7 linked regions of the Homo sapiens genome follow. The protein of the gene in region 2 purifies or fractionates together with the protein of the main gene of each other region. This does not show direct contact. Each region holds a gene or a part of one and is shown on either strand. Other genes may lie near its edges. The genes, in order: PCDH1, CD48, PTPRK, TRMT44, CLSTN1, GPR107 and CTHRC1.

The links.
Region 1: the proteins of CD48 (region 2) and PCDH1 purify together in Homo sapiens (affinity purification with mass spectrometry; one large-scale study listed by BioGRID and IntAct). This does not show direct contact.
Region 3: the proteins of CD48 (region 2) and PTPRK purify together in Homo sapiens (affinity purification with mass spectrometry; one large-scale study listed by BioGRID and IntAct). This does not show direct contact.
Region 4: the proteins of CD48 (region 2) and TRMT44 purify together in Homo sapiens (affinity purification with mass spectrometry; one large-scale study listed by BioGRID and IntAct). This does not show direct contact.
Region 5: the proteins of CD48 (region 2) and CLSTN1 purify together in Homo sapiens (affinity purification with mass spectrometry; one large-scale study listed by BioGRID and IntAct). This does not show direct contact.
Region 6: the proteins of CD48 (region 2) and GPR107 purify together in Homo sapiens (affinity purification with mass spectrometry; one large-scale study listed by BioGRID and IntAct). This does not show direct contact.
Region 7: the proteins of CD48 (region 2) and CTHRC1 purify together in Homo sapiens (affinity purification with mass spectrometry; one large-scale study listed by BioGRID and IntAct). This does not show direct contact.

Annotation. Positions count from the first base shown.
Region 1 is NC_000005.10:141,868,218-141,872,101, forward strand, and holds part of PCDH1 (protocadherin-1 isoform 2 precursor), read right to left. Parts: intron 1,411-3,884; exon of another isoform or gene 1,388-1,410; coding exon of another isoform or gene 1,300-1,387; intron 1,215-1,299; coding exon 352-1,214; intron 262-351; exon of another isoform or gene 1-261. UniProt on the Homo sapiens protein: May be involved in cell-cell interaction processes and in cell adhesion.
Region 2 is NC_000001.11:160,680,452-160,684,335, forward strand, and holds part of CD48 (CD48 antigen isoform 1 precursor), read right to left. Parts: exon of another isoform or gene 2,755-3,884; intron 1,018-2,754; coding exon 751-1,017; coding exon of another isoform or gene 644-750; exon of another isoform or gene 1-643. UniProt on the Homo sapiens protein: Glycosylphosphatidylinositol (GPI)-anchored cell surface glycoprotein that interacts via its N-terminal immunoglobulin domain with cell surface receptors including CD244/2B4 or CD2 to regulate immune cell function and activation.
Region 3 is NC_000006.12:127,978,561-127,982,444, forward strand, and holds part of PTPRK (receptor-type tyrosine-protein phosphatase kappa isoform b precursor), read right to left. Parts: intron 2,730-3,884; coding exon 2,556-2,729; intron 1-2,555. UniProt on the Homo sapiens protein: Regulation of processes involving cell contact and adhesion such as growth control, tumor invasion, and metastasis. Negative regulator of EGFR signaling pathway. Forms complexes with beta-catenin and gamma-catenin/plakoglobin.
Region 4 is NC_000004.12:8,468,277-8,472,160, reverse strand, and holds part of TRMT44 (probable tRNA (uracil-O(2)-)-methyltransferase), read right to left. Parts: coding exon 3,815-3,884; intron 3,181-3,814; coding exon of another isoform or gene 2,876-3,180; exon of another isoform or gene 1,660-2,875; intron 1,078-1,659; coding exon 961-1,077; intron 1-960. UniProt on the Homo sapiens protein: Probable adenosyl-L-methionine (AdoMet)-dependent tRNA (uracil-O(2)-)-methyltransferase.
Region 5 is NC_000001.11:9,729,668-9,733,551, forward strand, and holds part of CLSTN1 (calsyntenin-1 isoform 1 precursor), read right to left. Parts: intron 3,880-3,884; coding exon 3,734-3,879; intron 2,230-3,733; coding exon 2,094-2,229; intron 1,724-2,093; coding exon 1,539-1,723; intron 1,039-1,538; coding exon 841-1,038; 3' UTR 1-840. UniProt on the Homo sapiens protein: Postsynaptic adhesion molecule that binds to presynaptic neurexins to mediate both excitatory and inhibitory synapse formation.
Region 6 is NC_000009.12:130,056,857-130,060,740, reverse strand, and holds part of GPR107 (protein GPR107 isoform 3 precursor), read right to left. Parts: intron 1-3,884. UniProt on the Homo sapiens protein: Has been proposed to act as a receptor for neuronostatin, a peptide derived from the somatostatin/SST precursor.
Region 7 is NC_000008.11:103,370,005-103,374,386, forward strand, and holds the start of CTHRC1 (collagen triple helix repeat-containing protein 1 isoform 1 precursor), read left to right. Parts: upstream 1-1,533; 5' UTR 1,534-1,652; coding exon 1,653-1,802; intron 1,803-2,502; exon of another isoform or gene 2,503-2,547; coding exon of another isoform or gene 2,548-2,655; intron 2,656-4,382. UniProt on the Homo sapiens protein: May act as a negative regulator of collagen matrix deposition.

The sequences.
Region 1 (3,884 bases), on a different chromosome or scaffold from region 2:
CGGTGATTCCTTTGTTCCAACTCAGCTCACCTGGCTAGCAGAGAAGGATCTACTTGACTAGGGCGGGAGTTTTACTTCTCAGAGGTTCCCCCAGCTTGAGTCTGCCTTAGGGGTCACGGGAAACTGTTCATATGCTATTTCACTGTCACCTAAGTAGCCTGATAGAGGAAAGTAATATCACCTGCTGGGGTGGGGTGGGAAAGACTCCCCTGGCTGAGTTTGGGGAGAAGGGGTCTCACTACAGTATTCTGGCAGTTTTTCCCCTAAGTGAAGGGAACTCTCACCTGGTTGGGTGGGCTCCCATTTCTAGTGGTGGGTCACCCTGACAGTTATACGGAGGGGGCCTCTCACCTGGATGACCGAGTGGCCTATGGGGCTATTCTCAGATAGTTCGGCCTCATAGGAGGGCCGCTCAAACTTGGGGGCGTTGTCATTGGTGTCAAGCACGGTGACACGCAGCAGGGCACTGCTGGCGCGTGGGGGGCTGCCGCCATCCTGCACCTTGATGGTGAGGTCATAGGAGTCCCAGCGCTCACGGTCCAGGTTGCCCATCACAATGAGCTGTGGTTGCTTCTCCTCCTGGTCCTCTGCCACCTGCAGCCCAAATAGCTCCTGGGCCTCAGGCCCAGCCTGCAGCTCATAGGATGCCACACCGTTGGGACCAGCATCACGGTCTGAAGCCAGCGGGATGGGGAAGAGTGAGCCGATGTTGGTGTTCTCAGGGATGGCCAGAGTGATGACTGGTGAGGCGAAGTTGGGTGTGTTGTCATTGATGTCTTGTACTTCTATCTGGCCCTCTAGCAGCCGGGGGCTGCCATTCTGCACGAGGTCTGTGATAGATACCTCAAACTCCAGGATGCAGGGATCACCAGGGAGCTGGTTCTGGCATTCACGGAGCCCCTCACGGTCGATGGAGGTCTCGGTGGTGAAAATGTCACCTGTCTTGCCATCCACGCGAAGGTACGGGGCACCCACCTCTAGCTTGTACAGGTGCCCCACATCTGGAAAACCATAGTCGGCTGCGAGGCTCCCAATGAGGGTGTTGGGTGGCTGTTCCTCCGGCACCTTGTACACTACCCGAGTGGCGTGGCCTGGGGATGGAGCCAGCAGGAGCAGCAGTGCTAGCAGCATGGAGGGCAGCAGTAGCCGTTGCCCCCCAGGGCCTGGGCTGTGCCTCAGGTGCTCCATCCTGGGAGGCCCCAGAATCAGGAGGGCTGCAAGGGGAAGAGGCAAAACAGAGGCCATGAGCTGGGAAGAAAAGCCTGGCCCTGAGCTGCCCAGAGCTGGCCCCATACTCACCCTCTCCCACTGACACACGATTCTCCACAAGAGCAGTCAGTCCCAGCACAGAACCCCGATTCCAGAAACTCAGATCCCTGAATCTCATCCACAGCTGGGTGTAGCAGCAGTGTCTGCCCCAGCTGGAGGAGCCAGTAAGAGGCCTGGCATGCCTAGAGCAGCTCCCGCCCATGGAACACCCTCACCCACCTGACGCTCCCTGGGCCCAAGCCCGGCTGCCCGCCCTCTTTCCTTCTTTTCCTCCTTGCTCTCTGCTCTGTGCTTCACCCAACACCTCCTTCTCACGAGCATCCTGCCTTAGTCACCGATGGTAATTACCTTGATACTGAGATAGGGAGAGAGAGCCAGTGGAAGGGTGAGACCTCGAGCATCCCCAACTGGAGCACCCCTCCCCACATGCATGGTAGGAAAGAGACACAAGTACGTCCTTACACACCCCAGACCCTGGGACCTTGACTTGTCACACTGGGCTCCATTAAGGTTGGCTGGAGGGAGAGGGGATGATGTCTCATTTCTCTTTGTTCTGAGATGCCAAGTCAGTGCATATGCATGAGGTATGACATCTCAAATCCTCTTTTTCTGACAATCACCCACGGTGCCCAGTATTCTCCACCCCCATAAAAGGCCAGCTTGAATTGGGCAAGGCTTGTGAAAATGGTTAGGGTTGAGGAGTAGGTGTTAGCCTTCCCGACTTTCCCCCAACACATATGCCCCAGAACGTGCACACAGGCCACAGAGCGTGCACACATGCCCCAGAGCATGCACACATGCCCCAGAGCATGCACACAGGAACATGCACAGTTGCTAGGGCTCCTCTCCTCTCCCTCCTGCTGCCATGGGCAGGTGCGTACAAGGGAACACAGGTCAAGATTGGGGTCAGAACTGTGGTCAGGGCTGACTAGCCCTGGAATTGGCATTGGGAGCTGCCCTGGCCTGTCCTTAGCAACAGGGAGCCCAGCAGGTCTAACTGGGACAGAGCTGCCGATGATAATGACACCAGCAGCCTTTCCCTGGCCACTCCCCCACCCCACACCCTCTGGTCTCTGGATGAACATCTGGCTCTTATTTGACATCCATCTCCGTATATCCAGCCCCTACTTCACACTTGCCTCTCCCAACCTCTGCCCTAGTCAACCACAAGCTGTACCCCATCACAACAATAACCCCCTTCTTCTGCCCATCTCCCCTGGCTTTGAGGTCGTGCATTTGCAGATCCCAGCTAGACCCAGCTACTGTCTCTGTCTTGAATGCCCCCTCCTCTCCAACAAAATCATGGCCAGTCCCTCCTTTATTCAAATCCAAAATCTTTGGATCAGCAGTTTCTTTGGAGGCTTCTGGTTCAGTCTCCTTTCCCCACTTCCTCACTTTTACCTGGAATACCTTCCCCACACCTGGAACACCCACCCCACATCAATCCCACTGAGGGCAGGCTCTGGCCCTCCAGGAAACCTTCACAGTCCTCTCCTGCCCACGGTGACCTCTCCTTCCTCCAACTCACAGCCACTTATTGTCTGCTCCAATCCCAAGGCAATGAATCATGGGGCTGACTGGGACACCGCCCGCCTGTGTTGTTCAGCTTCAGTATTGTGCACCTATTCCTGAGTTCTCTGCCTTTCCAGGCAAACACAAAGCACTACGAAGGAAGGGACAGTACTCTGTACACTCACTCATCCCCTGCCCCCTAACAATGCACCTTTGCACATCTGGGTACACTGTAGGGACTCAGTCATGCATTCAACAAATGTTTATTGGGCATTTACAATATGCCAGGCTCTGTCCTGGGCACTGGGATGCAGAAGTAAACAAGACTGGTCCAATCTGCCATGACAGTGCTTCTAACTCAATGACTATTTGTCCATTTTGTTTGGTTGCTTCTGTATACCATTTGGCGAATGTAAGGCAGCAGGGTGGAGAAGAGCGAGGGTTGTGGCATTAGACAGTCTGAGGCAAACCCAGCTGCTCACTTCCTGGCTGCATGACCTGAAGCAAAGATTTAGTGCCTCAGTTTCCTTACCTGTAAAATGGGGATAATACTACCTATTTCCTAGGGTGTTTGAGATACTGTGGGCTAAATGTGGGTACTCAACAAAGGACTCCTTCAAAGCATTTAGCACAATTGTAGTTGTGTACCTGTTTGGAAAATGTGTTAATTGTCTGTCTTTGCTCCAAGATGGTGAGCAGAAAGCAGGAGAGTTTCTACTTTGTTTGCTCCTACCTCCTCAGGGCTTAGCCCTGGACCTGGCACACAGTGGGCACTTGGCAGCTCTTGAATGACTGTTGTTATTTTGCTCTCTAGGCTTAGCCTTTCCTGGTACTTGCTGTGTGACCACTGCTCTTTTACTTGCTCACTTACCCGATTCCCCTACACCACTAAGAACTTCCTGGGGTAAAATGTAAGTCTTCTCTGTTTAGGGCACATAGTAGACTCTCAGCAAATGTTCACTGAATGCACAGAGTCTTTAGATAAATCAAACACATCCCCTCCTCTGTATGGCCTTCCCCAAGCACAGGCCCCTCCCTAAAGTGTGTGCGGCGTTATCAGATTGGTGTGAATGTTAATCTCTTTAAAGGAAGCAGGAATTTAT
Region 2 (3,884 bases):
GAAGAACATGACTTGGGGAAGCTAAGTAACTTGTTTAGCTAGTAAGTGACAGTCCTAGAAGTGACCCCAGGTATGACTGACTCTAAAACCCATGGCCTTAGCTGTCCCATGCTAGCACCAGTGTAGGCCTGATCTAGAGCCAGGTGTGACACTCATGAGTGGATCCTCCCAGGAGACAGGGGAATCTGGCTTCCTAAGTTCATCTAGGAACATCAGGCTGGGGAGGAGAAGCTTCGCCTGAGGCTCAGGCTCTCACGCCTCCTCGACGGCCTCTCTCAGGCCCGTCTCCTCAGTCCCTCTTTCCCTGGCTGACTTTGGCGGTCTAATGACCTCGGTCCCTCTTTCCTTGGCTGACTTCGGCTGTCTAATGAAGCCCCTCTAGACAGCTGCTCGCCCACTTGCCCTTCCTTCTCCCTGCTCACCCTGATGTTTCAGTCTACTCTATGATGACCCTGGCCTCAGATGTTAGGACTATGCTTTGTTAGAGCGGGAGAGGGAAGAGGAGTATCAGAGATCTCTCCCAAACGTCCTTTGCAGGTGAGAACACTGAGCCCCCACGAAGTTGAGGTAAGCTGGCTGGGAGGTGGTGGTAGAGCTGGTGGCAGAACCCACGTCTCCCAGCTCTCCCAGACACCTTAGGGATTCACCACCACACTGTGCAAGGAGGCTGAATAGGACCCCCAGCCTTTCTTTGTTCAAAACAACTCCAGTTACCCTGTGCCCCCCTCAGCTCCCAGGGATCCTTCTTACCCAGGGTACAGGGTGGACTGAGGCAGACCGTGCCATTCTTGCTGCTCACAGAATTGCTGACTTGGCAAGTATAACACCTGGAGTAATTATGTGGCATAAGGGTGGTTTCAAGCACACTGTTCTGGAGCTCCTTTGGGAAGGGCCTTTTGTCCCCATACCAGGTGTAGTTTACAGACTCGCCAGGTATCACACATGACAGTTTCAGATAACAGTTGTCATCCATGTCTTCTATCTTCTCAATTTTGATGACAGGCTTGGGTACAGGGTCTGAAAGTGAGGAGGATGTTATAAGATGAGACAGTGAGGCATTCATGCTGTGAAGGTTTAGCCAACAAAGAACAAAGGGATCCAGGGAAGGGGCCTGAATGCCCCAGGAGGCAGAGTCATGAAGAAGAAGTTCTACAGAGGGAGCCAGTGAGCAGCCTTGACCTCCTGAGGCCTCACAGACTCACTGCAAGAGCGGCTTCTAGGCAGTGAAGCTAAGCTGCGTCCTGGAGGGGGCGCCACAGTCCATCATATGCTCTGGGAACAAAATGGGGTTATGATCGTGTGTGAGCCTGAACGAACAGCCCAGAGACTTGCTGGGGTCAGACTTAGTATATCAACTGCCTGAGATGCTCAGGGACCCTTCTCTAGCAACGGTTCATGGCGGGCACCTTGGCTGGTCTGTCTTTCCAATTATCGGATTCAGCTTCAGCAAGAGTCCTAAGGTAAGAGGTACCTGTCTGCGCGTGGCAAAGTCCTTTGCACAACCATCCAGTGCAGGTGCCAGCCTTCTAGACTCTGGCAGAGCTACAGAGAAGAACTTCATGTAACTTCCAGCCGCATCAATTGTGATAAACAGATTGGTCTGCTAACTTTGGTATCTCCATGTCTAGCACAATCCCTGCCACATGGCAGGTATTCTATAAGTATCTCATGAAAGGATGAATGAAGTAGTTATGAGATAGAAAGGATAAAACACAGCCGGGTGCAGCGGCTCACACCTGTAATCTCAGCAATTTGGGAGGCTGAGGCAGGAGGATTGCTTGCAGCCAGGAGTTAAGAGACCAGCCTGGGCAACATTGAGAGACTCAGTTTCTAAAAAAAAAAAAGAAAGAAAAGAAAAGAAAAGTAGCCAGGTGTGGTGGTGTGCACTTTTAGTCCCTGCTACTCAGGAGGCTGAGGTAGGAGGATTGCTGGAGCCCAGGAGTTCCAGGGTGCAATAAACTATGATTATACCACTGCACTCCAGCTTGGGTAAGGAGAAGACCTTCAAAAAAAAAAAAAAAAGAAGAAAGAAAGGAAGAAAGAGAGAGAGAAGGGAAGAGAAGAGAGGAAAAAGAAAAAGAAGGGAGGGAGGGAGGGAGGGAGGCAAGTAGACACAAAAACACTAGTTTTGGAGTGAGACCAGCCTGGGTCCTGGACTTGACTCTAGTGGAGTGACATTAGGCAAGGTAGTTAACCCCCTTGCTGTCATCTGTAAACTGACTCTACCTCATCGCGCAATGTTAGTAAGATAAAACGTCACCTGTCATGGATAATTGCTTTTTGAAGAGTGTAAGTATTGCATACATTCTAGAGGCCATTTTACCATTATTACTGTTGTACTGCTGCCGGAGAGAATGAGAGATAGTCCCAGCATCTGGTCCTTCCTTGGCTAAGGCCGGTTTACCTGCAATCCTCTGAGATCTTTTCATTCTGGTCAGGGTGAAACATCTGCAGAATCAATGCAACTCAAATCCCATAAGATTAAAAATTGGCAGAGAATTGACCAGATCAGAGCTTGCCTCTTGGTTGTATGTGTGGAGAGGCTCTAGAAGCTCTACCAATCTGGTCTCTAGAACTCTAGTTTTGTCTCCTCTGTGAAGCTGATCTCAGATCGCTAAAAGATTGCTCAGACTACAGAGGTGATAAAAGTTTCCTGGACTTCCCCTATATGTTTTAATTGAGCAATTTTTATCCTGGTTTTCACCATTTCCTGTGTTCTAGCCTCATATCTTACACTCCTTCTGCATTTCCCATGGTGATCAGCACAGCACTGGGCACTTTGCTGATGGAATTAATTGAGCCAGCTTGGGTTGTCCAGCTCCAAGATGCTCGCTTTGAGCTGTCAGAAATGCTTGGGCTGGACCAGAGGACCATTTTTTCTGCTAATCACTTCCTGGAAATCTTACCCTCAGGCAGGATGTGCTGAAGCCCAAGCCAGTTTGTGGATTTTTAAGTACTCAGAAATTTTGCAAGCTTTTTGTGAAACCATTAGTTTATTGAAATCAACTGTGGTAGCAGTATTTAAACCACAGAAATTACAAAGTTGGTAAATGCTACGCTTTAGGGCTTTTTTTTTTTTTTTTAAATCTTGTAGAGCTTGTTAACCAGAACACCACTGTAAGAGACCTTGAATCTTTTTGTTCCCAGGACTTTCTGAATTTTCAGCCCATATGACATGGAAGAAGAGTTAGAAGGGGAATCTGACTGCTTGGATCAGGGACTGTCTGGCTGGTGGAACTTGAATGTATACAACACTCTTCATTTGCATGTTTTGACATTTTAAAAAATGTTTTCACTTTCCTTATCTACTTTGACTCTAATAACATCCTGAAAGGTAAGTAGAATTATTCTCATAATATGATGAAGAACCCAAGGCTCTCAAGGGAACACCACTCTTGGATTATTTAGCCCCGCTCTTCTACAAGAATTGCATACCCCAACCCCTGGAGCCCCTCCCCATATCCATGTTTCTGCCCTATAATCTGATCCTTTCACCAAAAATGTTTAGATCAGGTACACACACCTGAACTAAATTGGGACTATCAGTTTCTCTCTCTTTAAATTGCCCTGAGAATTGAAACTCAGAGGAGCAAAAGTCTAAGTTTTGAGAGATAACATGTGTAAAATGGCAGGAATCCAAATCCATAGGCACAGTCCACAGATTCCTGAAGCTAGGGGTTCTGGCCCGAACCTGGTTTTCAATCTTCTCCCCTTAAGCCCTTCCTAGCTCTTTTAAACTCTTTGAATTGCTTTAAATAGCCCTAGTTTCTTAAACTAAATTCTCCTTTTTTGGTAAAGGTACATTGAATTAGTTTCTGTTATTTGCTATCAAAAGAATCTTACCTAATATGGGCACAGAGATGTGAAGATCTTTTTTCAAGGCT
Region 3 (3,884 bases), on a different chromosome or scaffold from region 2:
GTTTTTATTAGCAGTGTGAGAATGAACTAATACAATGAGAAAAGTTAGAAGAAAGGAAGCTCTTCTTCCAATCAAATGTCTGCTCCATGCAAAGGTAAGTCAAAGCAGACTGACGGCTATCTACTCATTTTTTGAGCCACAGGGGAGGGGATATGCATGAGGAGGAGCTGATAAGAGAGGAGAAGACTGAAGACTTCCTATTCTTTTTCCCTCTAAATGCAGGAACATATGTAAGGCTTTGAAATTACAGAATTCTTGGCCCTAGCTCCTAATCCCTCATAGACCTGGCAAAAGGGTACTAATGATGGGGATAAAGGGTAGGGAGAAAGAAGTGAACAATAAACCCTGTTCTTGTAAATCAAACCAGCTTTACTTCTCCAACGGTTCATTTGCACTACTAAATCCCCAGAACAGCTTTAACTATGAAATGTCTTTTTTTTGAATCACAGGGGATTAAGCAGACAGTAAGAGCAGGTGGATTACAAGCTTCAACTTTCATACAGAAAAAAAGACAAGCTTGGACAAGAAAGCAAGACCCCATCTTTACAAAAAATAATAAAAAAAAAATTAGCTGGGCATGATGGCATACACCTTAGTTCTAGCTACTTGGTAGGCTGAGGTGGGAGGACCACTTGAGCCCAGGAGATTGAGGCTGCAGTCATCTGTGATCATGCACGACACTCCAGCCTGTGCTACAGAGTGAGAGCTTGTCTCAAAAAGAAAAAGAAAAAAGAAAAGAAAAGGAGACAATCTGGACATTGAGAAAAATTTGACAAAGATGCCAATGGCAAAAAATTCAAAGGCATCAATGCTTTTCTAAATATTATTATTTTCTCCTTTTCTTGTTCACACATCCTTTTTTTATTCCATATTTAGATGCAGAAATGAAAAAGTATTGTATGCCATCTCTCTATTTAGTATATTTGCCTTTCCAGACACCTAATATAAAAAGAAAAGGTATAATTAGGATTTAATGTGATTTCAGTGGATGTGATTAATGGCCAGGCAAGACTCCGATCACAGCAAGGATGAGAGCTTTTCACAGGCAAGAGTGACCACAGCAAGGACGAGAGCCTGCCTTTAGACTATTCCGCTTTGCAGCACCAAAAAGAGTAAAGTAACTGGTGAAGACTACTCGTAGAAACAGAATGTGGGCTTAACAGGAACAATAACTTAGAAAGCCTGTTATAGTCAGAAAGAAATGAACCGTGGCTTCTAATTTCTCCTTGATATGGTTTCATAGGAGAAAGGGCAAAAGCTAGAAATGAAGGCAGTAAACTGTTTAAAAAGATTATAAACCATGATAGCTTTCTTGCTTCTTTCCAACATAATCAAAGTAAAGTGGCCAAAGTCATAATTTAAAACTTTCTTTCCTTGGGAGGCCAAGGTGGGCGGATCATGAGGTCAGGAGTTTGAGACCAGCCTGGCCAATGTGGTGAAATCTCATCTCTACTAAAAATACAAAAAAGGCCCGGCACGGTGGCTTACGCCTGTAATCCCAGTACTTTGGGGGGCCGAGGCAGGTGGATCACCTGAGGTCAGGAGTTCAATACCAATCTGACCAACATGGTGAAACCCCATCTCTACTAAATACAAAAAATTAGCCGTGCATGGTGGTGCATGCCTGTAGTCCCAGCTACTTGGGAGGCAAAGGCAGGAGAATCGCTTGAACCTGGGAAGCAGAGGTTGCAGTGAGCCGAGATTGTGCCATTGCACTCCAGCCTGGGCAACAAGAGCGAAACTCTGTCTCAAAAACAAAAACAACAACAAACAAACAAAATAAGCGGGGTGTGGTAGAGCACGCTCCTGTATTCCAAGTTACTCAAGAGTCTGAGGCAGGAGAATTGCTTGAACCTGGGAGGCGGAGGTTGCAGTGAGCTGAGATCATGCCACTGCACTCCAGCCTGGGCGACAGAGTGAGACTCTGTCTAAAAAAAAAAAAACCAAAAACTAAAACAGAAAACTTTCTTTCCATATTGTTCTGTCTATGGGCTATATAACACCCTGCAATTTAAGATTTTAGAATGGGGCAAGATTGTTCTTTCATTATGATGGATGTGTTAACATAATACCATCCATCCCCTCTCTAGTTACTTATAATAGTCCTTATTGATTAATGGCCAACAAATTAATTGTAAATTATTGAAACATTAAATGTCAGAAATAAAAATTTCCCAAATTAACATGATTTTTGTAGGATTTGGCATTCTGTGATTTAAAAAATTCATTTCTAATTATATTCAAAATAGATAAGGCATGATTTTCTTTTCTGAAAATAATTAAGATGAAATTTATAACTTGCAATATTTACTACATGAATATAATAATTGACAATCAAGCTCCAAATCTACAATAAAGCTATAAAAATGACAGTTCTTAAGAATCTCTATAGGGAAAACCTAAAATCATTTTCCAAAAAAATGTGTTTCAATAAAAGTTTCCACTTTTCCTTTTTAGGTTATTTTAATTTCCTCGAAAAGAAAACTAGCCAGTGTTCAGTTGCATTATGTAGCTTTCCACAACACTCTACACTAACAAAGAGGGCAGTCTCTTACGTCCATAAGAGCAGCATTGATGTAGTTACTGCTCTCCCCATCAATTGTAATTAAAAAAGGCAGACATCTGTCAGGTGGCAGCATGTCCATGAAACGGTTCTTGTCATGGTTCCTTGGCAGGCACGCTATACTGCAGTCTTCAGCTTGTAGTCGAGGGGTGACTGAATTCAGAGTCTAAAAAGAAAAGAGAACCCAGGTTAAAAGACAGTGTGACCCATTTAACAGTATAACACAGATCCATCAGGAATTTAGAAGGCCAAGTAGAAAGTGAAGGATTTGTGCGAGGCAATGGCATTTGCTACTATGACAGGCTGATAGACCTTGTAGTTAAAGCTAATGAAGCCTGAGAAGTGACAAAGAAACAAGACACACATTGTTCAGGGCTCCTCTTCTTAAAAGGAAAAGGTACGCTAAACAACACTGCTACCTGCAAAATGCATTGCCTTAACCAAAGAAAATGCAATCGGGCAGTCCATTATGATAATGACCCTTCATCACACTGGGAAACGGTATCATTTGTAGTAACATCTGGGCTTGCCATATTTGAAGATAAGCTATGGCATGTTGGAAAGAGCACTGGATCAACAATCAAAGAATTTGGTCTCTGCCCTTGATTTTATTTTCACCCACCTTCAGGGGTGTTTTAAGGGCAGTGAAAACATTTAGGGCTATTTTGAAATAACATGTACTACAAACTTCATTTATTATTATTATTACTATTATTATTTTTGAGACAGGGTCTTACTCTGTTGCCCAGGTTGGAGTGCAGTGGCAATATCTTGGCTCACCACAGCCTTCCAGGGTTAAGCAAACTTCCAGGGTCAAGCAATCCTCCCATCTCAACCTCCTGAGTAGCTGGGACTACAGGCATGCACCACCACACCCGGCTATTTTTTATATTTTTTGTAGAGATGAGGTTTTGCCATGTTGGCCAGGCTGGTCTTGAACTGCTGACCTCAAGATCTGCCTGCCTTGGCATCCCAAAGTGCTAGGATTATAGGTGTGAGCTGCCACTGAACCCAGACTCAGTTATAATTAATGTGCTTGATCTCATCACATTGTGAGTGACCCAGGTCAAAATCTGTATGACTGCATGAAAAAAAGGCTATAAATACACACTAAATACACACAAATCACCACTCATTTTGACTTGTTATTATTTCTTTTTTTTTTCTGAGACGGAGTCTCGCTCTGTTGCCCATGCTGGAGTGCAGTGGTGCAATCTCGGCTCACTGCAAGCTCCGCCTGCCAGGTTCACGCCATTCTCCTGCCTCAGCCTCCCGAGTAGCTGGGACTACAGGCACCCGCCACCATGCCTGGCTAATTTTT
Region 4 (3,884 bases), on a different chromosome or scaffold from region 2:
CTCACAGAAATGTGTGCTTAGGGCATGGTGGTGACACAAGAAGACACCTACTATTCTTAAAGATGCACGTGGAAGTACTTAGGGGTGAAATAGCATGCTAGCTAGAATTTGCTTTAAAATACTTACAGAAAGAGGAAAAAAAAAAAAAAAGCGCCACAAAGCAAGTTATGGCAAACTCCCCAGCCGCTGGCGCTGGTAAACCATGGCTCCCTGCCCTGTTCCTGCCCCCTCTGTGCACACCTGGAAGCTGCAGATGATGGAAGTGTGTACACCACTGGCACCTGGGTGAGCACCTGCTACATCTCCCCCCTCCCTCACTGCACCACCGGCTCCAGAAGGCCAGGGATGTGTCTGCCTTGCTTTGCGGGCTGAGTGAATGGACAAGCGGGTGGAGGGCCCTCCTGCCTCCCCATACCCTGGCAGTCCTGGAGTCACAGGGCGTTGGGGAGCAGGGGAACTGGGTACCAGGACCTCCGCCTGCCCAGGCCCGTGGGGCGAGGGCCACAGGAGTCCAGGCCTCCGCCTGTGGGGCAGGGCTCACTCTTCCCACTCCCCACCCTGGCTCTGTGGCTCAGGATGCTTTCAGTTTGCAGCAGCTAAAGATGACGCCAAACAATGACCCCCAGCCAACAGGGGACCGGCCAGCGGCTACCCGACTTGCTCTGTCCTGCGTGGAGCAAGTGGAGCTGAGGCGTCAGCAAGCACAGCATAGGGGGAGAGAGACCAGCCTGGGGACATCGCATGGGACGAGGTCCAGAGGAGCAAGGAGGGAACGGGGTGACCCACGTCCCACCCTGAGGTCAAATGCCACCCACGTCAGAGCTGGGTGGGGCACCGCGGAACTTGCTGCTTCTGTCAGATTCTTCAGTGAGTCTAAACCACTCTAAAATAAAACATTATTTAACTGAAAAAAGGGGGAAAAAGAAGGAAAGAACGGCGGGGGAGAGGCGGACTCCGTACCTTGGAACACCTGGTGGCTGTTCCGGAGCAGCGTCTGCAGGCCCCCACACTCCCGCTTCAGCCTCCGCAGGGTCTCCGTGTCCAGCTCGTTGGCTACTTCTGCCAGAGATAGGCTCTCTGTGGAAAAACGGGTTTTTTTTTTCCCCAAAACAACAGCAAAATATTACGAACCTGTCACACAGGCAGAAACAGTCCATTTCAGTTCCATACACTCACACGCGTTATGCACTCCAGCACGAAGGACGATTCCATCTCACCTAACCCACACCACACCGCACCAAACCGTGAGGGCCGTGGCGTCCCCACCCAGCTAAGGTGGCACAGCCTGACAAGACGCAGCCCCACACATGCCCCATGCCCGCACAGGGCCAGGCGTCAGGTGATGCTGCCTGCTCTGGGTGGTCACCTCAAGCTCTTCTCACTGGTGACCCATGAAGGGGGGTGGCTGTTTGGAGCCAGGGTTTCTCAGACTAAAGAAGGAAGGCCAAGCTGGCAAGCCTGGGGCCTGAGCCTTCCCAGTGGCTGCTCCAACCATGGGGCAGCCAGCCTGGCGCTACCGGCTCTAGGGTGGCCAGCAAGGCCATGCTAGGCACTAAAAAAAGGAACAGCACAGACACCACAGTGATGGTCTCTTTCCCATTCGAATTTCTGCTTTGAGAGCCTGCAGGTATTTCAAAATGCTCTAATCAGAAAACCTGGTGACATTAAAGTCATTTATTACCAAAACATCAAATTGGATATGAATGAAAGCTGGTTTTCCTGCATGTATTTGCCAGGAACTTCCTATCTGCCAGGTGCTGCACCTCACATCTTATCCACACCCTCCCAAGCTGCAGGAGAGCGGAGGAGACGGCGCCTGTCTGTATGCAGCTGAGCCTGTCAGACCCCTACGGATCAGGACACCACACTCCTGACCCAGGAGCCTGGTGCTGGCAGCCGCTGTCGCAGCTGCTGCGAGAATCCTGCCCACCCAGCCTGGCCAACCTTCTGAGTCCACCTCTCGGCTGTCTCAAATCCATTCTGAGAGGAGCGGGAGTGTTTTAAAAAAGATCACATATTGTCCCAGTCAGCCTTCCCTGTTGCCCCGGCTCTGGCCCAGCATGGACTCCATAACAGGGAATCTCACACTCAGCCATGGGTGCCTCCTGGCCTGGCATATCCGGCCTCTTGGTTTCTCATCCTTTGACGTGTGCGGTCTTGACTCCTAGCCAGGCAGGACTTGGAGCCTCTTGAGGGCAGGGCCCTTTCCTACCCTATTTCTCAGCAGTGTCCCACAGGGACAGACGCCGAGCTAGGATGGGTGAGGTCCTGGAGACAGAGCCACACATGGCCCACAGGCACAGAAACGCAGAGGTGCCTGCCTGAGGACAGGCTGGGTGGGGGCGACCAAAGGCCCTGAAGGCCGCCTGTGGGCGGGAGGGAGGCAGTGGGCTGAGAGGCCAAGGCCACGTGGAGAGTCCCTAACAAGCCCCAGACCCACGGACACCCATCTGGAGGGGACGGGGGTCCAGAGCCTGTTAGGTGCCCTGATTCCCAAGTTCCAAGGCGCAGGCAGGACTGAGCCCACCGCTCACCCATCCCCGCTCTCCATCTCCAGGTCTGTTCCTCCTTCCTCCTCACCCACCGAAAGCCGTCCATCCCAGGCACAGCTGACATCTGTGTGCCCGTCATCTCCTGGGAATTTAAAGGTCAAACTGCACTCAAGAACTGTCACTGTTTACTGCACGTGGGAACTTTCAGACCACACTGATGTCCCTGGGGCTCTGGGTCCCAGTTGCCTGTGGTGGGCTCCATGCTCTGCCAGCCTCAGCCTTCTTCCTCTGTGCTCCAGCCCCACCACAGCAGGGTGCCTTTAGTCAGCAGGGCCAACCCAGAGGCCCCACGGTGCCTGGTGGTTTGCAGCTAGTCGGCCCCATCAGCCACTGAGCCAGGGCCACTCTCGCCAGATGGCTAGAGGCTCTGCTGACCAGGTACCATCAGGTTCGAATGATTTCTGGAGGGGCCGTCTATGCTCCATGGCCCGGTCCCATCCCACGTACACATGGTACAAGAGGACAAAGGATGAAGAAGGAAACGGGTATGATTTTGTCCCAACATTCATAGGTGAGGAAAGCAAAGCCTGGAGAAGAAGGGTTTCCCTCAAATGCGCAGCCAGGCAGAAGTCACCGACGGAGGGGCCGGGAGGGGATGGGGCTCCGTGCTCTTCTCCAGTTCCCAAAACTGCAAGAGAAGCCAGGCGTTGGCTGCAGCTCTACACCACCCTCTGGCGGCCAAGCAGCATCCCTGCCCGGAAGGAGGCGAGGTCCTTACAGCCCTGGCTGGCTCTCTGAATGCCGTTAATTTCAACACACCACTCACCTGAGAACATAATTTCAGCACACCACTCACCCCATGAGAACAATCGATGTAATTTTCTCCTTTTGCCATGGATGATTGTTGTGTTTTGGGGATTTCAAAGAGAATTAAATTATCGAATCACAACAGCTCCAAATCTTACCACATACTCAAGGGGACAGTGCATTTTGCTTGCACTCAGTAACCTGTTTTCTCTTTGGATAATTTCTAGATTGAAAATGAGTAGTTCTAGCCCCTAAACCTGCATGTTTGGTAAAAGTTAATTAAGGGTCCAAACTCTGTCACTCCCTGGAAATAACAAAGTCCTTTATGTTTATAAGAGCTATTTGGAAAATTTTAAAGAATTTGCTTGAAGAGAGCCTATGCACCCACCATCAATGGCTTTTTCAAAGTGTGTAGTCACAGGGCCACACCATTTCATGTCGGTTCTGAAGACGTGAATTCCTGCCCTCAAGCCTGGGAGCGTGCTAGCCCCTCCCTAAGATGGTGGACAGCTTACCTCCCCCATTCCAGGTCTTCAAACTCCCATTTCGAGAACTTCTTGTGTTTAATTGCTTTCCACCTAACAG
Region 5 (3,884 bases), about 150 Mb from region 2:
GCTGCTGTCGGAGGAGGAGTGTGGAAAAGGGGCCAGGGACCCCGCACCCCACACCAAATTAGGAACAGGTAGAATCCCAAAGGCAAGGCCCGGCCACTTGTAGCTACCCTGATCCAGTCTCTTGAGCAGCACAGCTAGAGGCCTGTGGCCCCCGACTCCCAGCCATACTCAGACCTGAGCAGGGGCTGGGGCGGGGCTGGGCGGGGTGGGCCTCTCCCTCTGGGGTCTGGGGAGGGAGGACCCGGCGGGAAGAGCCCGTGCTCAGAGCTCCGAACTTCACTTTACATTCCAGTCCCGGGTTACACTAGCACAAAGGACACAAGGAATCCGATTTATTTACAAAATATTAAAAAGTCAGTTAATCATCTACACAGTACCCCCCATCCTGCCATTATTTATACATGCACTAGTTTGGAAAAAATAAAAACTTTTTTTAAAAAAAGAAAAAAATGATTACCGGGTGGGAGTGAGCATGTTTTACCCTTTGTCAACGAGCCCAGCTGGCATGGCTTTTCTGGAGTGCGAGGGGCCAGTGTCCTCTCCCCGGGGGGAGACTCCAGACACAAACGCGGGGCCTGAGGCGCTGGGAGGCCCCTGTGCGAGCCGGATGGCGGCCAGAGAGGACGTGTCAGCTCCTCGTGGGACTGAAGAGCGCGACCAGGCAGAGGGTGGGCGGGGAGCCTAGGGTCCTACACACCAAGCACAGCGACGATCGTGGCGGGGAGGGGTCTGCACACCTACTGGCCGAAATGACTTTGTACATCGTGGACCCTTGGGACTGGGAGAACGGATGGCAGCAGAGTCTTCGAAAGCAGAAACCGAGGTGGCCGGGGGCACGGGTCAGTAGCTGAGGGTGGAGTCATCCCACTCCAGCTGCTGCTGCCGGGTTGCGTTCTGGGGGTCGCCCTGCTCCCCCTCCTCCTCCTCGCTGCTCTCCGACTCGGCGCTGGTGATGTCATCCTCTTCTTCGCCGTCCTCGCTTTCCTCTTCCTCTTCCTCTTCCTCCTCCTCCTCACTGCTGTGCTGGTCCTCATAGGTCTGGCAAGGAGAAGTGACGGCCACATGAGTCCGGCCCTGCCCACAGCCCCGTCACCTGGCATTCTCCTCTCGACAGCCACAGAGGAAGGAGAACTTGCCCCAGCGTCTCCCTCCCCAGCGACAGAGCAGCCAGGACGGCACCGGAAGTTATATTAGAAGTGAAGGGAAAACAAAGCTCCAGTCAGCACCCACGGAGTCACCCACATACAAAGCAGCTTGGGACAGCACCTCAGCTGCCCCACCAGAGAACTCTCTCAGGATTACCATGACCCAAGAGCGCCAAGCCCTGGCATGGCTCTTCTCTACACTTAAGGCAGAACGGCCTTGAATAAGGTCTCTCTCAGCCTCGGTTTACCCACGAAGACACCTAAGCCCCAGGCTTGCTGAGCAGATGACGCGATGGAAAGCATGTGAACCTGAAGGAGCCGCGCCGTACCGGCTTCTCGGAGGCCCTGGCCTGTGCTGCCTCTCAGTCCTGGAGGTCGCCCGCCCACTCCTACCTCCATGGGGTTGACGGTGATGGTCAGGGCAGAGTCGTCCCAGTCCATCTCGTTCTCCTTCCCGGTGTCCTGATCCCGCATGGTCCGCCGATGTGCGGCCCGGATCCGAAATACCCCCAGGATAATCATGAACACCAGGAAGCTGACGCACACCACGATCACAACTGTCGCAGTGCTGGGGACGACTGTGGGAGAATGAGGGGGCGGGATGCGAGGTCACTCGGCCCAGAAGGCCACTGTGCCCTTGACCTCCTCGGCTGTGCCTGGTCAAAACGGGCTGGACAGCACGCTTCAGCTGAACCCACAGGCCAGGAGGAAATACCAGGAAAAGCTCGCCATGGGCCTCCAACCTGGCTCGGCCACGTCCTGCTCCATGGCTGCGGGTGACATCATCTGCCCTCTTCGAGGGCTTTAGTTTCCTTGTGTGTGATGGGGAATAATTGGGACAGGGAAAGACCGGCGGTCATGCTGAGCAGGAGGCTGTGCCCACGGTGGGGTGGGGGCAGGGCGGACGGCATGGAGCATCTCCGCTTGGTCTCCCTCCCCATGTCCTACCTGCGAACGGGTGGGGGTTGGCCAGGTTGTGGCCTGACAGGTCAACAAAGGAGCGGTGTTCCGGGTGCACGAACTGTGGCTGGGCAGCCATGTGGTTGGCGTGTTCCATGGGGTTGGCCGTGTGGATTACATTCACCTATAGCAGAGAAAGAGAGGATCGCTGGAGACAGGCATCCTGAGCCTGTCCAAGAGGTGACAGTGGAGTCCCGCAGCTGGCATGACCAGTGCCACTCAGAGTGGCTCCTGGACCGCAGCTGGGGGCAAACGGAGCTACGGGAAAAGGACAGAAAAAAAAATCAAGAGTAAGCACTTAAAAAACAAAAACAAAGAAAAAGAAACAAAAACCAAACAAAAAAGAGTAATAAGCACTTAGAAACTGCTATAACAATCTAATATTCTCACACATTCCAGAAATGTATCACTTTTCTACTTATTAGTATTTGTTGAGACTGGGTCTTGCTGTGTTGCCCGGGCTGGAGCGCAGTAGCTATTCACAAGCATGATCACGGCTCACTGCAGCCTGGAACTTCCCTGCTCAAGTAATCCTCCCACCTCAGCCTCTCAAGTAGCTGGGACTACAGGCAAGCACCACGCACCTGGCTGCAATCCATTTTTATTGCATTTTATAAAAGATTATGCCCAAAACAAGAGCAGAAAAAGAAGCCGATGGTCCTTCCCCATGGGTCGTTTGGGAAGCACTGGCGTAGACCTTTTTCCTCAAATCACAGCCGTGTGAAAGACAGCACCAATCACTGCCATGGATTTCCTTTCATATCTCTTACCCTTTGACTCAAACAAAACAGGCACCGAATTTAGCATTCTGCTCTTGAGTTCATGGTGATATTCCATTGCTAAGAGTAACTTTGGGTCAATTTTCTCCAGGCCACAGAGAGCCTGAGCGATGAAGCAGCTGCTGGATAGGTCTGTAGACGACCTCAGAGCAGGAGGAGCTACCCTCTAGCCTGTGTGGCCTGTGAGTCACCAGCGCCAGCCTCAGCAGCACTGGTCCTGCCCGTGCGGGTCCCTGCGTGAGCCCCTCTCAACCTGGGCCGAGGACTCGACTTCATTCACAGGAGGGCCAGTGACCTGGCACAGATGCAGAGAACTTTTGGTTCCCTGGATGCTGCTCTTTCTAAAACAGTGTCTTTGGCTGGGCACAGTGGCTCACGCCTGTAATCCTAGCACTTTTGGAGGCCAAGGCAAGTGGATTGCTTGAACCTGGGGGGACAAGACCAGCCTGGGCAACATAGTGAGACCTCGTCTCTAAAAATAAATAAATAAATAAAACCACATCCTCCTGTTTCTCTCATGGGAAATCTCAAGAAGCCCCAGAGGCATTAACTGCCACTTGCTCTTTGTCACCTCCCTGCAAAGTTCCTTAGGCTCCAACTCAGGCTGAGGCAGCCAGGGAAAGGGGAGCACCCCCCACCCCAGCTCACCCCAAACACAACTTGTCACTCCAACAAGCCCAGGTGTAACCTGCAGCAGGCCCCAGGCTGGAAAGGCGACCCCCTAGAATGAGCCTGTATAGCTGCCATCATGAATGCTCTGAGGTTGGCGTTTGTGAATATTAGGGCTGCAAATCAGCGCCCTCACTCACTGCTGCTATTGGCCCTGCTCAGTGGGAGCCTTGTACTCACCTCCACCTTAAATTCGTTGCTGATGTAGCGGCCATTCAGCTCTGAGCAGATGAGCTTAAACTTCCGGTCAAGCAAGGACCTGGCATGCCAGTTCCGATAGCGCAGCAGGTGCAAAACCTCCTCGTAGCTGGCCATGGTGTCCACGCCTGCA
Region 6 (3,884 bases), on a different chromosome or scaffold from region 2:
ATGCCCAAATTTCTGAGGCTTTAGCAAAGCACTTCCTGTCCACTTGCTCATTTGCAGCATCTACTTGAAAGCCAGAATGATCAGTCATCAAAATATTGTGTTTTTAACACAATATAAAAATCATATTTAGACAATTTTTGATGTAAAACTCAGATTAGCCGAGCACAGTGGCAAGCATCTGTAGTCTTAGCTACTTTGGAGGCTGAAACGGGAAGATGGCTTGAGCCCAGGAGTTGGAGGCTATCGTGCACTATGTTTGCACTGGTGAATAGCCACTGTACTCCAGCCAGGGCAACACAATGAGACCTTATCTCAAAAAAAAAAAAAAAAAAAAAAAACTCGGATTATCATTTTTATTCCATTAATAAGAAATGGATAGGCTGGGCGCGGTGCCTCACACCTGTAATCCCAGCACTTCGGGAGGCCAAAGTGGGCAGAACATCTGAGGTCAGGAGTTTGAGACCAGCCCGGTCAACAGGGCAAAACCCCATCTCTAATAAAAATACAAAAATTAGCTGGGCGTAGTGGTGGGTGCCTGTAATCCCAGCTACTCAGGAGGCTGAGGCAGGAGAATTGCTTGAACCTGGGAGGCGGAGGTTGCAATGAGCCGAGATCGCGCCACTGCACTCCAGCCTGGGGGACAGGATGAGACTCCGTGCGCCCCCCAACCTCCCCCCGAAATAAAACTTATTTACTGATCACGCTGGGCCTGGTGGCTCATGCCTGTAATCCTATCACTTTGGGAGGCCAAGGCGGGTAAATCACCTGAGGTCAGGAGTTCGAGACCAGACTGACCAATATGGTGAAACTCCGTCTCTACTAAAAATACAAAAAATTGGCCAGGTGTGGTGGCAGGTGCCTGTAATCCCAACTACTCAGGAGGTCGAGGCAGGAGAATCACTTGAACCCGGGAGGCAGAGGTTGCAGTGAGCCGAGATTATACCATGGCATTCCAGCTTGGGCAACAAGAACAAACTCCATCTCAAAAAAAAAAAAAAAAAAAAAAAGACGTATTAACTGATCACAGTATGAGGATGTGACTTAGATCCTGATTTTTCAAAACTTTTTCAATCCATTTATGACCAATGAAAATTTGAATCTGATCTGACATATGATACTAAGGATTTTTTTGTTATAATAGCATTGTAGCCATGTTCTTAAAAGAGCTCTTATTTTTTACAGGTAATATCAAAATATTTAAGAATGAAATGATGCAATGCCTTTGATTTGCTTTATTTATTTATTTTTTTTTGAGATGGGAGTCTCACTCTATCGCACAGGCTTGAGTGCAGTGGCACAATCTCAGCTCATAGCAACCTCCACCTCCTGCGTTACAGTGATTCTCCTGCCTCAGCCTCCCCAGTAGCTTGGATTGCAGGCGCCCGCCACCGCACTCGGCTAATTTTTGTATTTTTAGTAGAGACAGGGTTTTACCATGTTGGCTAGGCTGGTCTCGAACTCCTGACCTCAGGTGATCCACCTGCCTTGGCCTCCCAAAGGCCATTACAGGCATGAGCTACCACACCCAGCCAATATGCTTTAAAATAATATAGGAAGACAATGACAAATGCTGATAACATTGTGAAGAAAGAGAACTCTCATAAATTGCTAGTGGGATGTAAAATGGTAGAGCCACTTTGGAAAATAGTTTGGCAGTTTCTTAAAAAGTTAAACATAAATCTATCATATGACCCAGCAATTCTACTCCACTCCTGGATATCATCCAAGAGAAATGAAAACATATGGCCCCACAAAGCCTTGCAATGTGAACGTTTATGGCACCATCATTCATAATGGCCAAACAGTGGAAACAACCCAAACATCCATCGACTGGTGAACTGCTAAGCAAAAGAAGATATATCCACACGCTGGAAGACCATTCAACAGTAAAAAGGAATGAATTACTGACACATGGCACAAAATGAACGAAGCTCAAAAAAGAAAGAAAGAAAGATGGGCACAAAAGCCTACCTATCGGCCGGGCGCAGTGGCTCACACCTGTGATCCCAGAACTTTGGGAGGCCGAGGCGGGCGGACTGCTTGAGGCCAGGAGTTCGAGACAAGCCTTGCCGCCATGGCAAAACCCTGTCTCTACTAAAAATACAAAAATTAGCTGAGCGTGGTGGCAGGTGCCTGTAATCTCAGCTACTCGGGAGGCTGAGGCAGGAGAATCGCCTGAACCTGGGAGGTAGAGGTTGCAGTGAGCCGAGATAACGCCATTGCGCTCCAGCCTAGGCAACAGTCCGAGACTCCGTCTAAAAAAAAAAAAAGAAAAAAAGCCTACTCATCCTGTGATTCCACTTACATTAAACATCCAGAAAGGGTAGGTTTATAGAGACAGAAAGTAGATTAGTGGCTGCCTGGGACTAGTGGTGGGAATGGGAATTGATTCTAAACCAACACAAGGGATCTTATGGGGTGACAGAAACGTTCTGTGGCTAGATTGTGGTCATAGCTGTACAACTCGGTAAACTTACTAACAATCATTGCATTATACAGTTAAAATGGGTGATCTTATGGTATGTAAATTATACCTCAATAAAGTTGTTCTTAAAAGGCAAGGAGTATTTCCTGCTGACAGGTCTTTAAAAAAATAAACAAAAATAATAAATAGCCAGGAGCGGTGGCTCACGCCTGTAATCCCAGCACTTTGGGAGGCCGAGGCAGGTGGATCACCTGAGGTTAGGAGTTCAAGACTAGCCTGATCAATATGGCAAAACCCCATCTCTACTAAAAATACAAAAATTAGCCAGGCGTGGTGGCGCATGCCTATAATCCCAGCTACTTGGGAGGTTGAGGCAGGAGATCGCTTGAACCGGGAGGCGGAGGTTGCTGTAAGCTGAGATCGCGCCATTGCTTTCCAGCCTGGGTGCCAGAGCAAAACTCTGTCTCAAAAAAAAAAAATAATAATAATAAATAAATAAAAAGGCAAGGAATATAGGGAAAAGTCAAAAGAGATGGACTGTGAGAAGACTGGGAAAGCCAGAAGAATGGTGGAAAATGTAGCATGGAGTAAGACAATAAAAATATAAGAGGACTCATTTCTAATTTTAAAAATAATAAAAAATAAGAACCAGAAATTGATGTATGTGGGATGAGGCAGAATCAGCCATGTGTTGATGGTTATTGAGGGTGACAGGCACATGGGAGTTCATTATGCTATTCTATCTGCTTTAGTATATTGGAAATTCTCCACAATAAAAAGGTTGTTTTGCTTTGTCTTTTTTTTTTTTTTTTTTAAGAAATAGGGTCTCACTCTGTCCCCCAGGCTGGAGCCATTATAGCTCACTACAGCTTCTGACTCCTAGGCTCAAGGGATCCTGCCACCTCAGCCTCCCTGGTAGCTGGGACTATAGGTATGCACCACCACATCTGGCTAATTTTTGTTGCTGTTGTTGAGATGGGGTCTTGCTCTGTCGCCCAGGCTAGAGTGTAGTGTCGCCATCATAGCTCACCGCAGCCTCCAACTCTTGACCTCAAACGAGCTTCCCTAAGTGCTGAGATTACAGGTGTGAGCTACCAGGCGCAGCCAGGTTTTAAGAGATCAACGCATACTCCTGGTACTCAGTGACCTCTTCATGTTATCCTTGCCATTATGGGTCTCTAATCTGATCAAGTACCCTATTTCACTCAGTCTCAAGCAAAACAGACAATCTAAAGTTGCTGCTCTGACAGGCTCTCTTCAAATGATTTCCATTTCCTTGGGCAAGAACTCAGAACAAGCTTGTCCAGGATGCATGCGGCCCAGGATGGCTTTGAATGCGGCCCAACACAAATTTGTGAACTTTCTTTTTTTTTTTTTTTTTTTTTTTTTTTGAGAAGGAGTCTCGCTCTGTCACCCAGGCTGGAATGCAATGGCGTGATCTTGGCTCACTGCAAGCTCC
Region 7 (4,382 bases), on a different chromosome or scaffold from region 2:
CTTCACAGTATTACCATCCGTCACAACCTCGTGTTGTTATGGGTGTGGCAAGACTTCTGTTATGCCTGATTCCAGCCAGTTATATATAAAAGATCTCCTGCTCCAACCTGGCCCTACGTGGTGGGTAGCCTGGGCCCTGAGAATGTTTTCTTCTACAATGGACAGGCCAAAGGAGGACAGAGGGGGTTACAAAAAGATAATATCCATCAGAGGCAAAGAGTACTCAAAAGTGAACTTCTACCATTTCCACTGGATATTGATTAACTTCCCTGAGCCTCAGTTTCCTCATTCGTTTATGAGAGTAGCCCAGGAGGCATCTACCCCTCCCAACCCGCCAGGATTGCTGAGAGGACAGAGTACGCGTGCAAGGTTTTGCAATGTGCCAGAGCTTAGTAAGTGTTAGCACTTATGAAAACAGCGTTTATATATCATTTGGGTCATGGGACTCTTGGAAAACCTGATGATACCTATGGTTTCTTCCTGCCTCCGCCCCACCCCCACCTTCCAGCCTCCAAAAATGTCACCTCCAAAAAACAAATAAGGCAGGGCGCGGTGGCTCACGCCTGTAATCCCAGCACTTTGGGAGGCCGAGGCGGGCGGATCACAAGGTCAGGAGATCTAGACTATCCTGGCTAACACGGTGAAACCCCGTCTCTACTAAAAATATAAAAAATTAGCCGGGGCCGGGCGCGGTGGCTCACGCCTGTAATCCCAGCACTTTGGGAGGCCGAGGCGGGTGGATCACGAGGTCAGGAGATCGAGACCATCCTGGCTAACACGGTGAAACCCCGTCTCTACTAAAAATACAAAAAATTAGCCGGGCGTGATGGCGGGCGCCTGTAGTCCCAGCTACTCGGGAGGCTGAGGCAGGAGAATGGCGTGAACCCGGGAAGCGGAGCTTGCAGTGAGCCGAGATCGCGCCACTGCACTCCAGCCTGGGCGACAGAGCGAGACTCCGTCTCAAAAAAAAAAAAAAAAAAAAAAAAAAAAAAATTAGCCGGGCGTGGTGGCGGGTGCCTGCAGTCCCAGCTGCTCTGGAGGCTGAGGCAGGAGAATGGCGTGAACCCGGGAGGCGGAGCTTGCAGTGAGCCTAGATGGCGCCACTGCACTCCAGCCTGGGCGACAGAGCGAGACTCTGTCTCAAAAACAAACAAACAAACAAAAAACAAATAAGACTCGCCGACCCATGCCATAGATTGACGACCCTTGAAGGTGGCTCGTGTACCCAGGTTAAGCCACGTGTCTCTAAAATGTTCATTTAGGCGGCGCTGTGTTACCTGCGGGAATCCCCGACCTGCGGCTCCTGACCACGGGCCACCCCGCCCAGACCCTGCAGGCGGGCTCTCCACGAGGGTCTGCGCAGCCCCGCGGGGGTCCTGACAGGCCGAGCGACTGCAGTAGGAGGGGGCGGGCCCGGCTCTCGGTCCGCCCCCACGCCGGGCTCGGGGTGGGGGCTCGGGGCCTATTACGGGATGGAAGCTCCGGGTGTCGCGGGGGCGGGAGGAATTAAGGGAGGGAGAGAGGCGCGCGGGTGAAAGGCGCATTGATGCAGCCTGCGGCGGCCTCGGAGCGCGGCGGAGCCAGACGCTGACCACGTTCCTCTCCTCGGTCTCCTCCGCCTCCAGCTCCGCGCTGCCCGGCAGCCGGGAGCCATGCGACCCCAGGGCCCCGCCGCCTCCCCGCAGCGGCTCCGCGGCCTCCTGCTGCTCCTGCTGCTGCAGCTGCCCGCGCCGTCGAGCGCCTCTGAGATCCCCAAGGGGAAGCAAAAGGCGCAGCTCCGGCAGAGGGAGGTGGTGGACCTGGTGAGTCCGAGGGAGCCGAGCCGGGACCGCCGCGCTGGTGGAGGGGACCTGGCCGCGCGCCCCACGGGCAGGGCGTCAGTCTGGCTGTTGGGGGTGTCTGTCTGTACAGCTGTGTGTCGTGTGTCTTGCTGCGCCGGGGTGTCATGCTTTTTATTTACAGGTGAAGAAGGACCTGGTTATGCGTGCAGTGAGTCTTGGAACTCAGAGGGGAGACCAAAATGGGAGGCCATCGTGGAGCGGACATGCGATATGGGCCCGGTGGGTCTCCCCGAAGTACAGGGAGTCCCCCAATAATTTCTGGCCCCAGGGGGACCCCTTGGGAAGGGTGGGAGGGATAGGGCGGCAGTGAGAGTAGGATGAGGAGCTTGGGTACGTCCGAAGTGGACCTGGGAAAAACCCTGGCCTCGCTGATCACATGGACCTGGGCCTGGGCCAGGGCGGTGCAACGTGTCCTTTGTTGGGGCTGGTGGCCACGTCTGCCTGCGAGAGAGAATAACAACCCCCACAAAGCATCCGTCCAACTCTTTGTAACTTGAAGACTATGAGTCACGTTGGGTCATCTTCCTAGGGAGTATGGGCTGCAATTTACTTTGTTGGACAACCACAGCTGGGGCTAGGAATGGTTCAGAAGGTTTAAGGCCGGAAAGGGAAATGAAGGGGCCCGGCGCTAACCCTCTAAGGACCTGTTTTGCTTCTGTTTAAACCAAATGGGCAGTCTGTCATTACACACACCCTGGGTCTTCATATGTGGCCGCCAGGTAGGAGCATCACAGTCAAGCTACGGGAGAAAACAGTTTCCAGGAAACTGGAAATGAACGGCCCGAGTGCTTTCCAGGGGCTCATCTGTGGGAAGGTATGTTTGCTTAAAATCCTTCCCTCTAAAAATCAACAAACCCAGTGGAGGGCGGAGAGGTTCTCTGGCCTGTGGTATGAGGGAGCCTTTCAGAGCTACCGTAGTCCTTGGCATATTATAAACTTCAGTCTCACTTGCAGACAAACATGATTTACAGGCATTGCAAGACATAAGTTGGGGCATTTTTTTTTAATTAAAAAGAAAGTTTTGAATTTGTTAAGCTGCCATTTTAAACTGAGCTAATATACCAAGTTCCCTGGCAGCTAGTTCTGTATTGGATTCAAAAGTGCTGGGAAAAAAATTCCCGCCATTTCACACAGCACTTTTTGGTGGTAGGCTGTGTAATTTTGATCCACAAAAGGGGACTATGTGTTCAGGCAACAGTTCTATTTTAAGTGTCCAAATTATTAAAACTGTGCCAAATGAGTATGGTTCATGTGTAGTTTGCATTTTATGAGTCTGTAGTTATGATACACAAAATACCCATTTTTCCTGTGAAGCTTGCTATTTTCCCCCCTTCAAGGATTTACAGTACCTGTGGTTTCCCACAACTCTAGCCAGACTTGGAAAAGATTTTGCAGTCAGGCTCAGGTGCATCCTGTAGGTTGGATTTGGTTTTGCTGACAGAAGAAGTCCACAGTCATTAAGGTTTCAACAGATTCTATAAAGCAACTTCTTTGTATAGGATCTTTCAAAGCGTTCCTTTCAAGCTTCCACAAAGCTCTGCCCCCTGGTGGCCAGTGAAAGAAACAGGGGCGTATAAAAGTGCGCTTCCCTTCACATCTTTTTTTTTTCATTCCACAGACATTTATTGAGAGTACTAAGCATATGTTGGGTTAGCATTTTAAAGTAGAAGACTGATGTAACACCTGCGGAATCGAGTCAAGTAAAGTTATATAGTCTTTGAAATGTATCTTTTAGATGAAAAGGTGAATAAAAATTCCCAATATGGCACAATGGACATGTTGGGCCAGATAATTCTTGTGGGGACTTGTCCTGTCCGTTGTCGCGTGTTTAGCAGCATCGTTTGTACATACTAGATGCCAGTAGCAATCCCCTCTCCCAAGTTGTGACAACCAAAAATGTCTCTAGACATAGCCAAGTGTCCCCTGGAGGACAAAATTGTCCCCAGTTGAGATCCACTGATATATAATGAAGTAAAATTTAGTCTGTGTAGCATCTTGCCCTGAGGGGAATAATAGTGAAAAAAATCAAAGAATATCAGAAGCAGTCTTATTCCCATTTGAAATGTATGTCTAAACATTGTATATATCTGCTTGTGAGAGTGAATTAAATTACTAAAATAAAAATAAAGTCTAAAACACACCAAACTATTTTGAAATATTTTGCACTTTTAAAATGCTTTACTTTTTGTGTCTTTGAATACTTTTGTAATTGTTAAATGCTTTTTCTTTTCTTTTTTTTAACTATTTCTCTGACAGTAAATAAGTAGTAGTGTCTTTTTCTTCTTACAGTCAGGAAAATGGCGATGTCAAAGACTTAAAAAGTCATTTATCAAACCAAAACTCAAACTGGCGATGGAGACACAAATTGATTAGCAAGCATCAGTCTAATTATATAGGATTCTTCCCAGACAACTATTGGATTTTATCATCCAATCCCAGATACTGTAGTCAAAAGATAAGCTTTGAAGTTACTTTAATATCTAAGAAACTTTGTTTTTTGTTTTCATTGGGAAATATAGTTATACAGAATAATACTAGGCA